Linked DNA regions of Homo sapiens: region 1 is linked to region 2. The links come from fine-mapping of genetic effects on gene expression. Tissue or cell type: visceral fat. Region 2 holds a variant in brackets; the other region holds the start of a gene. All regions are shown on one strand. Distances are between the middles of the regions.

Evidence for each region. PIP is the estimated chance that this variant, and not a neighbour inherited with it, causes the effect.
Region 1: FOXO4 starts here. The variant in region 2 is fine-mapped to the expression of FOXO4 in visceral fat (GTEx, PIP 0.94).

What each region holds. Positions count from the first base shown.
Region 1 is chrX:71,093,785-71,099,505 of GRCh38, reverse strand. FOXO4 (forkhead box O4) reads right to left here and starts at 3,655. Exons shown (of 3, transcript NM_005938.4): 1 at 2,525-3,655. The coding sequence starts at 2,977. RefSeq lists an enhancer at 893-1,187.
Region 2 is chrX:71,796,870-71,804,649 of GRCh38, reverse strand. No RefSeq gene overlaps it. Among named protein-coding and RNA genes, the nearest start is that of CXorf49B, 37 kb to the right of the region's middle. The variant C/G (reference allele first, on the strand shown) is at 4,669.

The DNA.
Region 1 (5,721 bases), 700 kb after region 2:
AGCACATATTCTATACCTACTCAAGCTCACAGTACATAATCAATATTTGTACCTGATTGGTGGGTTGCCCCTGGGTTGACAATGGTGAGGCTCCCCTTGAGGCTCTGCCAGCTCTTCAGTGCCTTGGGTATTGGAAGCTGTATGTTTTCCCTTCCTCCCTCACTGGTGACATTCTACTAGGGAAACGATGCTTTCCAGTGGCCCAGGGAGCTGAGATTGGCAGCTTCTTCAGCCCCCAGTGCAGCTTATATTTACTGATTGCCGCGGGGCAGGCTAGTTACACAAGGGGTTTGGCCCTCCCCTGGCCACCCCCCTTCCCGAAACCTGCCTTCTTTTCCCTACCTCCTTCCCAGTGCCTTTCCCCCATTTCTCAGGAATTTGTGCATAAACTCTTCAACCTTGGGGGCATTTGACCTCCCACTTGGAGGTCTTTAGTTTAGAAATTCAGGAGGAGCCCAGAAGTGCTTAGAGCAACTAGGAGGCTGAGTACATGGGACGGTCAGAAACTACTTGTTTCTCTGACTGGTGCTCTTAAGATAAGGAGCACCTTTGCCTGGGGAATGATGCTTCTTGTTCCAGGGTTCTTTAGCCAAAGAACTCCTTGTGTTCCTGGGACCCTGAGGTAATGGCATTTCAACTGTGCTGATGTTCCTTCAAGGAGTGGCACTTGTCCATCCGGCCTCACCTCATAGTAACTAAGGACCACAATGACCATGACCTGGCACTATGATTTCTCCTCTTTTTATCCTCTAATTCTGGATCTACTTGAGAAGATCCATTCCTTTCCCTACTACTTAATAGCCACAAGGCCCGTTTGTCTCCTCTTCTTTAGGCCTTGGAACTAGCAAGTGGTACACAGACTCTTAATTGGAGAGGTCAGTTTCCCAAAAGCCCATAACTCTTACATGTTGGAGGGCAGGGTGGTGGGGGTGACTGCTAATTGCTCCCTAAGCCACCTAATCTAAACTTTCTTGTTCTAAGTGAGTGCCGCCCCCTGGTGGGGTGGGAGTAACCTTGGCATATCATCAGGGAGGCCAGTTCAGGCATGAGACTTCCCCTCAGAGAGGGGTGGGGGGGCCTTGAAGTCCCAGGCTCAGCCTGATTTGACTTTGCCCTCATTCCAATTAGAGCAAGCCAGGCTCTTTTTAGAGAATATGATTTATAGTTAGACCTGAGTTCAAGTCCTCACCCTGCTGTTATTAGGTGAATTTCCTAACCTTTTGGTACCTAGTTTCCTAATGTGTAAAATGTGGAATCTCAGAATTGCTGTAAAGATTAATAAAATAAAAACTTTAAAAACTACTTTGTAAACTCTAAAGCCCCACAGAAGTGTAGATTATAAGGACGGACTATACTCCCACAATATAACTAACAACTTGTTATTTCCTCTACCCTGGAAAATGAACCTAAGGGAAAAGAAAAACAGCTGTGTAGGCTGGGTCCAAGGAGGGGAGCTTTTTATGAGCTGAGACTGTGGCGTGGCAGTCTACCCAGAAATAGTGCCAAGGGTCTCAGTCAGCTGTCCTATCTTCTGTTCTGCCCAGCCCCTAGGGATAGCACAGATCTGATCCCTCAGTCTCCTATACCTAGGGGAAGTTCCTCTGCTCATCCAACCTTCTGTACTTGGTTATATGCTGACCTCACCACCTAGAGAGGTACAAGCCAGCAATAGGGCTTGAGGCTCCCCAATTTTGTGATTACAGCCCCATATTTTCTCAGGACAAGTTTTTCAGAGTATCCTTTGAGATATTCTCTCACAGTTTCTTCACAGAAGGCCAAGAGAACTCCCAACTTTGTGCTCTAAAGTCAGAGCCCTACCTCCTTCTTCATGACTAATATTCCTTAACAGTAAAGGATGACTTCCCCCCAAAACTTGGATAGCCCCTTACAAGGGAGAGTTTCTTGGCAGCACAGGGTAAGCTGAGCCAAGTGGCAGCTCACAGCCCTTTTTCTTCTTAGTGCATGAGATCAGCTACCTTTCCCCATGAATATTATTGTTTTTACCCTTTGCCACTGCACTCCCTCCTCCTGGGTAGAGCAGTGCTAGAACAGTACCACTACACTGAGGTACTGGGAGGCAAGCAGGGAATCCAAGTAATCCCACAGGAATGGGAGAAAAGGTGTTGGGGTGGGAGGTGGGGGAGGAGGGAAGGGTAGGTTCATGTGGGGAATCCACACAGTTCCTGCTGTACATAGGATAAAGACTTCTCTGTGGGAATAAGTGTTTGGGGCAGCCCAAGCCAAAGTGCTGCGAATATTGAGCAGTGAGCAGAGAATTCAATTTTCTCCAGGGCAGGGACAGTGTCTTATTCATCTGTGATCCTTCAGCATCAAGCACCGAGTGTGGCATATACTATGTACTAAGTAAATGTTTGTCTAACTGGAGATTGAAGGTGGATCTCTGGGCTTCCCAAAGGGGGTGGGGGTGGGAGGTAGTAAAAGGGGCCCCAGAGTAGAAGTAAGGGAGGCTAGGGGGTCCAGGGGGTAGATGGTGTTGGGAAGAAGGTAAGAGGGTCATAATTACCTTCCATCCTGCTGAGCTGTTGCTGTCACCCTTGTCCTTGAAGTAGGGTACAGTACGGACCATCCACTCGTAGATCTGGGCAAGTGTCAGTCGCTTCTCCGGGGCGCTTTCAATGGCCTGGCTGATGAGTTCTGCATATGACTGATTTCCCCAGGCATTCCGGCGGGAGCCTCCCTTCCGAGGACCTGTTACAGCCCCCAGGATTCCGGGCTGGGGGCCCCCGGCCGGCTCTGGGAGCCGAGAGGGCAACAGGATCGGCTCTGAGCGCCCCTCCGTGTGTACCTTTTCCCCCAGATCTGGCTCCACCTCGGGCGGCTCGGACGGCTGGTTAGCGATCTCTGGTCGGGGAAGGGGCCAGGTGCAGGAGCGGGGACGGCTCTGGGGTTCGAAGTCGGGATCTAGGTCTATGATCGCGGCAGCCTCTGTGGCTGAATTCTCATTCCCCGGATCCATACGTGGAGTTGGACCTCCCCGGCTCAGCGTTCAGTGAAGCCTGCCACAGTCCCTCACGATGCCTCCCCTCAGGGGGGAAGCATCGAGGGCCAGGAGGCACATTCCTGCCAGTCTTCAGAAAGTCGCGAACTTCCCCCTAGTCCCAGGACGCTAGTCCCTAAGCTGTCCCTTCACACAGTTCTCCGATCCCCTTCCCGACTACAGCCTGTAGCCTCAAAGCTCTTTCTGAGATGCCACCTGTAACCTCTGCCGAGCGAAGACACTTTTTCTGCAACCTCTCACTCAGCTTCCTGCTCTTTTAAACCTGAGGCACTGTATCCCCTCATATATTGCGCTCCCATCACCGAACGTCTCCTTAGCCGCAGTTCCCTCCCCCTTTTAAGTTGCTGCCCCCCGGACACTCCTCCCAAATTTCCTCCACCCGGATTGCTGCCCTCCCCCACGCCCCGCTCCCCCGCGTCACTTGCCCCTCCCCTGACTCCCCCTTCCCCCGCCTCTTCCCTTCTCGCCACTCTTACTAGGGTCCGGGTCCCCGCGGCTGCGGCCTCCCTTATTCCCGCACCGATTCCCCTATCAACCCCCCCCACCCCCCGCCCCCCGGGTTTCCCTTTTGTTTTGCTCCAAGCAGCAGCCCCCTCCTGACGTCTCTGTTTACCACTCGCCGGGGCAGCCATCTGCGCACGCGCCTCGAAAGCCAGTCGGGAAACCGAGTTCTGCAGTCGTGCCACCCTGGTCACTCTTGAGGACTACATCTCCCGTCCTGCTTCGCGGCCAGGAGCCCGATACGGCGGCAGGAGAGCGGCGTGGCAGGATATAACGAGGTGGAACTTTAATTATTAGAAGTCGTCGCGGACTCTTTCTTTTCTTAAGAATCGTTTTTCGCCCTTTCCCCCTTTCCATTGTCTCCCTTGTGATTCAGAGTCGTGTAGGTGACCAGATTGAGAGGTGCTAGCCCTTTCCCTCCTTCATTTAGGAGACGGCAAAAGGGAAAAAATTATTCTCTTAAAGATGCAGGAGACCAAGAAGCAAGAAGCAAGGAACTGACTAGAAAATAGGATGTATGCACGTTGGAGAGTTGGGTGGGGGGCTTGTGTAACATAAACAAATGGTTAGCCCACGGTGGTGTTCCTCCTCACCCCCTTCCTCCTCCCTCCACCCGCCTTCATCCCCCCATATGCAGTTCCCACTGACAGTGAGGTCTCACTTACCAATCAGTTTCCTCCACTGGCTCTTCTGGCTTTCCCTTCAACACCGATATTCTCCAGGTTCACATCTCCAACGGCTTCACTTCTCATTCAACAGGTCCAAACTCATTATCTGTTCCTGCACCCGCACCCCTATCCTCTGGCTACCCTTATCTCTGAATTTGACTTATGGTAGTCCTGATCTACCCAGTCTCCCAAGCTCCAAGCAGCAGCTTAGAGGTAATTACCCATTACTTCTTCATCTCCGTAACTTTCTACATCCAAATCCCAGTTCAAGACCTATTTATAACTGCATTTAAATTGTAGGATCAGCCGGGTGCAGTGGCTGACGCCTGTAATATCAGCACTTTGGGAGGTCGAGGCAGGCGGATCACTTGAGGTCAGGAGTTTGAGACCAGCCTGGCCAACATGGTGAAACCCATCTCTGCTAAAAATAGAAAAATTAGCCTGGTGTGGGGCACGCACCTGTAGTCCCAGCTACTTGGGAGGCTGAGGTGGGAGAGTCGCTTGAACCCAAGAGGTGGAGGTTGCAGTGAGCCAAGATCATGCCACTGTGCTCCAGCCTGGGTGACAGAATAACACCCTGTCAAAAAAAAAAAAAGGTGCAGTATCATCTTAATTGGATCTCCTTCCATCAGTCTTTACCTCACTACAGTTTATATTCAGAGCTGCCAGCAAGGTTACCGTTCTAAGAAACATGTCTGGTAATTATGGCTAAAATTTATGGAGCCCTTATTATGTGCCAGTCTCTGTGCAAATTGCTTTACGAACATTAGTTCATTTACTCCTCAATCATTTACTCCTCAATTCAACCCCATGAGGTAGGTACCACTATTATCCGCATTTTATAGATGAAGACACTAACAATGCTCAGAGATTGACTTGCCCAACGAGGCAGAACTGGGATTATATAACTTACATGCGATCGTATAATTTCTTTCTTTCTTTCCTTCCTTCTTTCTTTCTTTCCTTCCTTCCTTCCTTCTTTCTTTCTCCTTCCTTCTTTCTTTCTTTCTTTCTTTCTTTCTTTCTTTCTTTCTTTTTCTTTCTTTCTTTCTTTCTTTCTTTCTCCTTCCTTCCTTCCTTCCTTCCTTCCTTCCTTCCTTCCTTCCTTCCTTCCTTCTTTCCTTCTTTTTTGAGACAGGGTCTTGCTCTGTCACTCAGACTGGAATGCAGTGGTGTGATCTTGGCTCACTGCAGCCTTGACCTGCTGCACTCAAGCAATCCTCCCATCTCAGCCTCGGGAGTAGCTGGGACTACAGGCATGTGCCACCACGCCCAGCTAATTTTTGTATTTTCTGTAGAGACGGGGTTTCACCGTGTTGCTCAGGCTGGTCTGGAACTCCTGACTTCAAGTGATCCACCTGCCTTGGCCTCTGAAAGTGCTGGGATTACAGGCATGAGCCACCGCACCTGGCTATAAATTTTGTTTTTTTGATCATGTAATTTCCCTGGTTAAATCTTCCTCTGATTTTCCCCATTGCCTGTGTGATAAAGTTCAAATTCCCTCGCAAGGCATGCCAGGCTCCTCAGATTCAG
Region 2 (7,780 bases):
CTGCCCTACTGTGGCCAAGCTGACATCTAAGGTGCAAGACAAATTCCCCTTTACTCTTGCCTCTGCTATTCTCCCAGAGAAACTATCTCTGCCCATAGTCACCACAGCTGGGAATGTGCTGGGTCTCCCCTGAAGCCAACATGTCTTAGAGTTTCACCCAGGGCCCGTGGTAAACTACCTGGGTATCATTGCAGGTTGCTCAGGGCCCAAGGGCTCTTTAGTCAGCAGGTGATGAATTCTGTCAGGGCTGAGTCCTTCCCTTCAAGGCAGCAGATTCCCTTCTGGTCCAGGGTGTGTCTAGAAATGTCATCCATGAGCTAGACCCTGAAATGGGGGCCTCAGGACTCTGCCCAATGCTGTATCCTACTGTGACTAAGTTGGTGTCCAAGATGCAACACAAATTCTTCTTTATGCTTCCCTCTCCTCTCCTCAAGTGAAGGAAGGAGTCTCTCCTGGAACTCTGAGCTGTGCTGCTGGGGTTAGGGGAGCCGTGGTGCATGCATTCTCTCAGCCACCTTGCCTGGTGTCTCACTAGGTCATGGGCTCCCTACGTTCTCTTACTCTGAGCCCAGCACAGCACTATGAGTTGCAGTCCTTGTATCCTAGACCACCTCTCAAGTTTATTTAGAAACCCAGATCCTGCAGTGGTGAGGCTTCCCATAACCCAAGTTCTGACCTCTGCGGTGTATAAATCGCCTCTGGCTAGGGCTGGTCTAAATGCTCCCTCTGTGGGCAGGCATCAGCCGACTTCTGACCAGTTTTGCTTTCTGCTGTGACAGGGCAGCACTGAGTTCAATGCACATCCCATAGGCACTAGGTCATGCTGAGCAATCCTTTAATTAAACAGCAGAAAAACACACAAAAAATTAATGTGCTATGAAATTTGATTTGCTAGTACTTTGTTGAGGATTTTTGCTTCTATGTTCATCAGGCATATGGGCCTATAATTTTCTTGTAGTGTCCTCGTCTGGCTTTGGAATTAGGGTAATGCTGGCCTTGTAAAATGAGTTTGGAAGTATTCTTAATTTTTCAGTTTATTGGATGAGTTTGAGAAGGATTGATCTTTTTTTATTATACTTTAAGTTTTAGGGTACATGTGCACAATGTGCAGGCTTGTTACATATGTATACATGTGCCATGCTGGTGTGCTGCACCCATTAACTCGTCATTTAGCATTAGGTATATCTCCTAATGCTATCCCTCCCCCCTCCCCCCACCCCACAACAGTCCCCAGAGTGTGATGTTCCCCTTCCTGTGTCCATGTGTTCTCATTGTTCAATTCCCATCTATGAGTGAGAACATGCGGTGTTTGGTTTTTTGTCCTTGAGATTGTTTGCTGAGAATGATGATTTCCAATTTCATCCATGTCCCTACAAAGGACATGAACTCATCATTTTTTATGGCTGCATAGTATTCCCGTGGTGTATATGTGCCAAATTTTCTTAATCCAGTCTATCATTGTTGGACATTTGGGTTGGTTCCAAGTCTTTGCTATTGTGAATGGTGCTGCAATAAACATACGTGTGCATGTGTCTTTATAGCAGCAAGATTTATAATCCTTTGGGTATATACCCAGTAATGGGATGGCTGGGTCAAATGGTATTTCTAGTTCTAGATCCCTGAGGAAACGCCACACTGACTTCCACAATGGTTGAACTAGTTTACAGTCCCACCAACAGTGTAAAAGTGTTCCTATTTCTCCACATCCTCTCCAGCACCTGTTGTTTCCTGACTTTTTAATGATTGTCATTCTAACTGGTGTGAGATGGTATCTCACTGTGGTTTTGATTTGCTTTTCTCTGATGGCCAGTGATGATGAGCATTTTTTCATGTGTCTTTTGGCTGCTTAAATGTCTTCTTTTGAGAAGTGTCTGTTCCTATCCTTTGCCCACTTTTTGATGGGGTTGTTTGTTTTTCTCTTGTAAATTTGTTTGAGTTCATTGTAGATTCTGGATATTAGCCCTTTGTCAGATAAGTAGGTTACGAAAATTTTCTCCCATTTTGTAGGTTGCCTGTTCGCTCTGATGGTATTTTCTATTGCTGTGCAGAAGCTCTTTAGATTAATTAGATCCCATTTGTCAATTTTGGCTTTTGTTGCCATTGCTTTTGGTGTTTTAGACATGAAGTCCTTGCCCATGCCTATGCCTGAATGGTAATGCCTAGCATTTCTTCTGGGGTTTTTATGGTTTTAGGTCTAACATTTAAGTCTTTAATCCATCTTGAATTGATTTTTGTATAAGGCGTAAGGAAGGGATCCAGTTTCAGCTTTCTACATATGGCTATCCAGTTTTCCCAGCACCATTTATTAAATAGGGAATCCTTTCCCCATTGCTTGCTTTTCTCAGGTTTGTCAAAGATCACATAGTTGTAGATGTGCGGCGTTATTTCTGAGGGCTCTGTTCTGTCCCATTGATCTATATCTCTGTTTTGGTACCAGTACCATGCTGTTTTGGTTACAGTAGCCTTGTAGTATAGTTTGAAGTCAGGTAGGTTGATGCCCCCGGCTTTGTTCTTTTGGCTTAGGATTGACTTGGCGATGCGGGCTCTTTTTTGGTTCCATATGAACTTTAAAGTAGATTTTTCCAATTCTGTGAAGAAAGTCATTGGTAGCTTGATGGGGATGGCATTGAATCTATAAATTACCTTGGGCAGTATGGCCATTTTCATGACATTGATTCTTCCTACCCATGAGCATGGAATGTTCTTCCATTTGTTTGTATCCTCTTTTATTTCATTGAGCAGTGGTTTGTAGTTCTCCTTGAAGAAGTCCTTCACGTCCCTTGTAAGTTGGATTCCTAAGTATTTTATTCTCTTTGAAAAACCACAAAGATGGGGAAAAAACAGAGCAGAAAAACTGGAAACTCTAAAAAGCAGAGCACCTCTCCTCCTCCAAAGGAATGCAGTTCCTCACCAGCAATGGAACACAGCTGGATGGAGAATGACTTTGACGAGTTGAGAAAAGAAGGCTTCAGATGATCAAACTACTCTGAGCTACAGGAGGAAATTCAAACCAAAGGCAAAGAAGTTGAAAACTTTGAAAAAAATTTAGATGAATGTATAACTAGAATAACCAATTCAGAGAAGTGCTTAAAGTAGCTCATGGAGCTGAAAGCCAAGGCTCAAGAACTACGTGAAGAATGCAGAAGCCTCAGGAGCCGATGCGATCAACTGGAAGAAAGGGTAACAGGGATGGAAGATGAAATGAATGAAATGAAGTGAGAAGGGAAGTTTAGAGAAAAAAGAATAAAAAGAAATGAACAAAGCCTCCAAGAAATATGGGACTATATGAAAAGACCAAATCTACGTCTGATTGGTGTACCTGAAAGTGACGGGGAGAATGGAACCAAGTTGGAAAACACTCTGCAGGATATTATCCAGGAGAACTTCTCCGATCTAGCAAGGCAGGCCAACATTCAGATTCAGGAAATACAGAGAACACCACAAAGATACTCCTCGAGAAGAGCAACTCCAAGACACATAATTGTCAGATTCACCAAAGTTGAAATGAAGGAAAAGATGTTAAGGGCAGCCAGACAGAAAGGTCGGGTTACCCACAAAGGGAAGCCCATCAGACTAACAGCGGATCTCTCGGCAGAAACTCTACAAGCCAGGAGAGAGGGGGCCAATATTCAACATTCTTAAAGAAAAGAATTTTCAACCCAGAATTTCATATCCAGCCAAACTAAGCTTCATAAGTGAAGGAGAAATAAAATCCTTTACAGACAAGCAAATGCTGAGAGATTTTGTCACCACCAGGCCTGTCCTAAAAGAGCTCCTGAAGGAAGCACTAAACATGGAAAGGCACAACCGGTACCAGCCACTGCAACATCATGCCAAAATATAAAGACCATCGAGACTAGGAAGAAACTGCATCAACTAATGAGCAAAATAACCAGCTAACATCATAATGACAGGACCAAATTCACACATAACAATATTAACTTTAAATGTAAATGGACTTAATGCTCCAATTAAAGGACACAGACTGGCAAATTGGATAAAGAGTCAAGACCCATCAGTGTGCTGTATTCAGGAAACCCATCTCACATGCAGAGACACACATAGGCTCAAAATAAAAGGATGGAGGAAGATCTACCAAGCAAATGGAAAACAAAAAAAGGCAGGGATTGCAATCCTAGTCTCTGATCAAACAGACTTTAAACCAACAAAGATCAAAAGAGACAAAGAAGGCCATTACATAATGGTAAAGGGATCAATTCAACAAGAAGAGCTAACTATCCTAAATATATATGCACCCAATACAGGAGCACACAGATTCATAAAGCAAGTCCTTAGTGACCTACAAAGAGACTTAGACTCCCACACAATAATAATGCAAGACTTTAACACCCCACTTTCAACATTAGACAGGTCAACGAGACAGAAAGTTAACAAGGATACCCAGGAATTGAACTCAGCTCTGCACCAAGCGGACCTAATAGACATCTACAGAACTCTCCACCCCAAATCAACAGAATATATATTTTTTTCAGCACCACACCACACCTATTCCAAAATTGACCACATAGTTGGAAGTAAAGCTCTCCTCAGCAAATGTAAAAGAACAGAAATTATAACAAACTGTCTCTCAGACCACAATGCAATCAAACTAGAACTCAGGATTAAGAAACTCACTCAAAACCGCTCAACTACATGGAAACTGAACAA[C/G]CTGCTCCTGAATGACTACTGGGTACATAATGAAATGAAGGCAGAAATAAAGATGTTCTTTGAAACCAACCAGAACAAAGACACAACATACCAGAATCTCTGGGACACATTCAAAGCAGTGTGTAGAGGGAAATTTATAGCACTAAATGCCCACAAGAGAAAGCAGGAAATATCCAAAATTGACACCCTAACATCACAATTAAAAGAACTAGAGAAGCAAGAGCAAACACATTCAAAAGCTAGCAGAAGGCAAGAAATAACTAAAATCAGAGTAGAACTGAAGGAAATAGAGACAAAAAAAACCCTTCAAAAAGTTAATGAATCCAGGAGCTGATTTTTTGAAAGGATCAACAAAATTGATAGACTTCTAGCAAGACTAATAAAGAAAAAAAGAGAGAAGAATCAAATAGACACAATAAAAAATGATAAAGGGGATATCACCACCAATCTCACAGAAATACAAACTACCATCAGGGAATACTACAAACACCTCTACACAAATAAACTAGAAAATCTAGAAGAAATGGATAAATTCCTCGACACATACACTCTCCCAAGACTAAACCAGGAAGAAGTTGAATCTCTGAATAGACCAATAACAGGATCTGAAATTGTGGCAATAATCAATAGCTTACCAACCAAAAACAGTGCAGGTCCAGATGGATTCACAGCCGAATTCTACCAGAGGTACAAGGAGGAACTGGTACCATTCCTTCTGATATGATTCCAATCAATAGAAAAAGAGGGAATCCTCCCTAACTCATTTTATGAGGCCAGCATCATCCTGATACGAAAGCCTGGCAGAGACACAACCAAAAAAGAGAATTTTAGACCAATATCCTTGATGAACATTGATGCAAAAATCCTCAATAAAATACTGGCAAACTGAATCCAGCAGCACATCAAAAAGCTTATCCAACATGATCAAGTGGGCTTCATCCCTGGGATGCAAGGTTGGTTCAATATACACAAATCAATAAATGTAATACAGCATATAAACAGAACCAAAGACAAAAACCACATGATTATCTCAATAGATGCAGAAAGGCCTTTGACAAAATTCAACAAGGCTTCATGCTAAAAACTCTCAATAAATTAGGTATTGATGGGACGTATCTCAAAATAATAAGAGCTATCTATGACAAACCCACAGCCAATATCATACTGAATGGGCAAAAACTGGAAGCATTCCCTTTGAAAACTGGCACAAGACAGGGATGCCTTCTCTCACCACTCCTATTCAACATAGTGTTGGAAGTTCTGGTCAGGACAATTAGGCAAGAGAAGGAAATAAAGGGTATTCAATTAGGAAAAGAGGAAGCCAAATTGTCCCTGTTTGCAGACGACATGATTGTATATCTAGAAAACCCCATTGTCTCAGCCCAAAATCTCCTTAAGCTGATAAGCAACTTCAGCAGTCTCAGGATACAAAATCAATGTACAAAAATCACAAGCATTCTTATACACCAATAACAGAAAAACAGAGCGCCAAATCATGAGTGAACTCCCATTCACAATTGATTCTTCACTTTTTATCTTTCGTGTATCTACTATAGATTTCTGTTTTATGAATACCATGAGGCTTACATAAAATATCTTATGGTTATAACAGACTATTCTGAGCTGATAACAACTTAACTTTGATTACACACAAAAACTACAATTATGCTCCTTAACTCCCCGTATATTTTATGTTTTTGATGTCACTATTTACATCTTTTTTAAATTCCATATCCCTTAACACATTTTTGTAGCTATACTTTCACAAATAGTTTTGTCTTTTAACCTTCATACTAAAGATATAAGTGATTTATACATCGTCATTACAATGAGTATTCTGGGTTTGAACATGTACTTATTTTACTCATAAATTTTCTTCTTTCATATTTTCTTATTACCAATTAACATCCTTTTCTTGGCCAGGTGCGATGGCTCGTGCGTGTAGTCCCAGCACTTTGGGAGGCTGAGGCAGGCTGATCACTTGAGCTCAGGAGTTGGAGACCAGCCTGGGCAACATAGTGAAACACTGTCTCCACACAAAATAGAAACAAACAAAAAAATTAGCTGGGCATGGCAGTGCATGCCTGCAGTCCCAGCTTCTTGGGAGGCTCATGTAGGAGGTTTACTTGAGCCTGGGAAGTCGAGGTTGCAGTGAGCCACGATCACACCACTGCACTCCAGTCCAGGTGACAGAGTGAGATCCTGTCTCAAAACAAACAAAGAAACATACAAAAAACAAAACCCAAATAACAAACAGACTCAAAAACCAGATCGTTTTCTCTCAGCTTGAAGAATTCCCTCTAGCATTCCTTGTAATGCAGTGAACTACTTTAGGAAGATTATTTTTAATTCCTTCTTAGAAAGTTTCTAAATCTCTCTTCTTTAGGGTTGATCAGTGAAGCTTTACTTTGTTCCTTTGGTAGTGTCATGTTTCCCTGATTGATTGTGACCTTTGTGGCTGTACATCGGCTTCTGTGCATTTAAAGAAGTAGGGACTTGGGCCAGGCGCGGTGGTTCATGCCTGTAATCCCAGCACTTTGGGAGGCAGAGGTGGGTGGATCACTTGAGGTCAGGAGCTCGGGACCAGCCTGGCCAACATGGTGAAACCCCGTCTCTACTAAAAATACAAAAAGTTAGCTGGGCGTGGTGGTGGGCGCCTGTAGTCCCAGCTACTCAGGAGTCTGAAGCAGGAGAATCACTGGAACCCGGGAGGCGGAGGTTATAGTGAGCTGAGATTGTGCCATTGCACTCCAACCGGAGCAACAATAGCTGCGGTTAGGAATAAACAACAATAGCTCCATTAGGAAAAAAAAAAAAAAAAGGAAAAAGAAAAACCAAAAAAGAAGTGGGGACTTGCTCCAGTGCTTGATGACTGGCTCTGGCTGGGAAAGCCCTTCACGGTTCAGTCCATCCAGAGATTCTGGGAAGACCATCTGGCATGGTGCATGGATAGACTTGCTGCTGGATTTCTTGGGAAAGCTGGCTTGGTGAGCAGGTATGGTGGAGCTGGAACCTGAGTTCATGGATTTGGGCCTGGGTCCTGGTGCCATGGGGACCAACCTGGCTATTGGGGCCAGTCTTGCCCTGGCGTGGGCCTGAAGCCCGAGGCCAT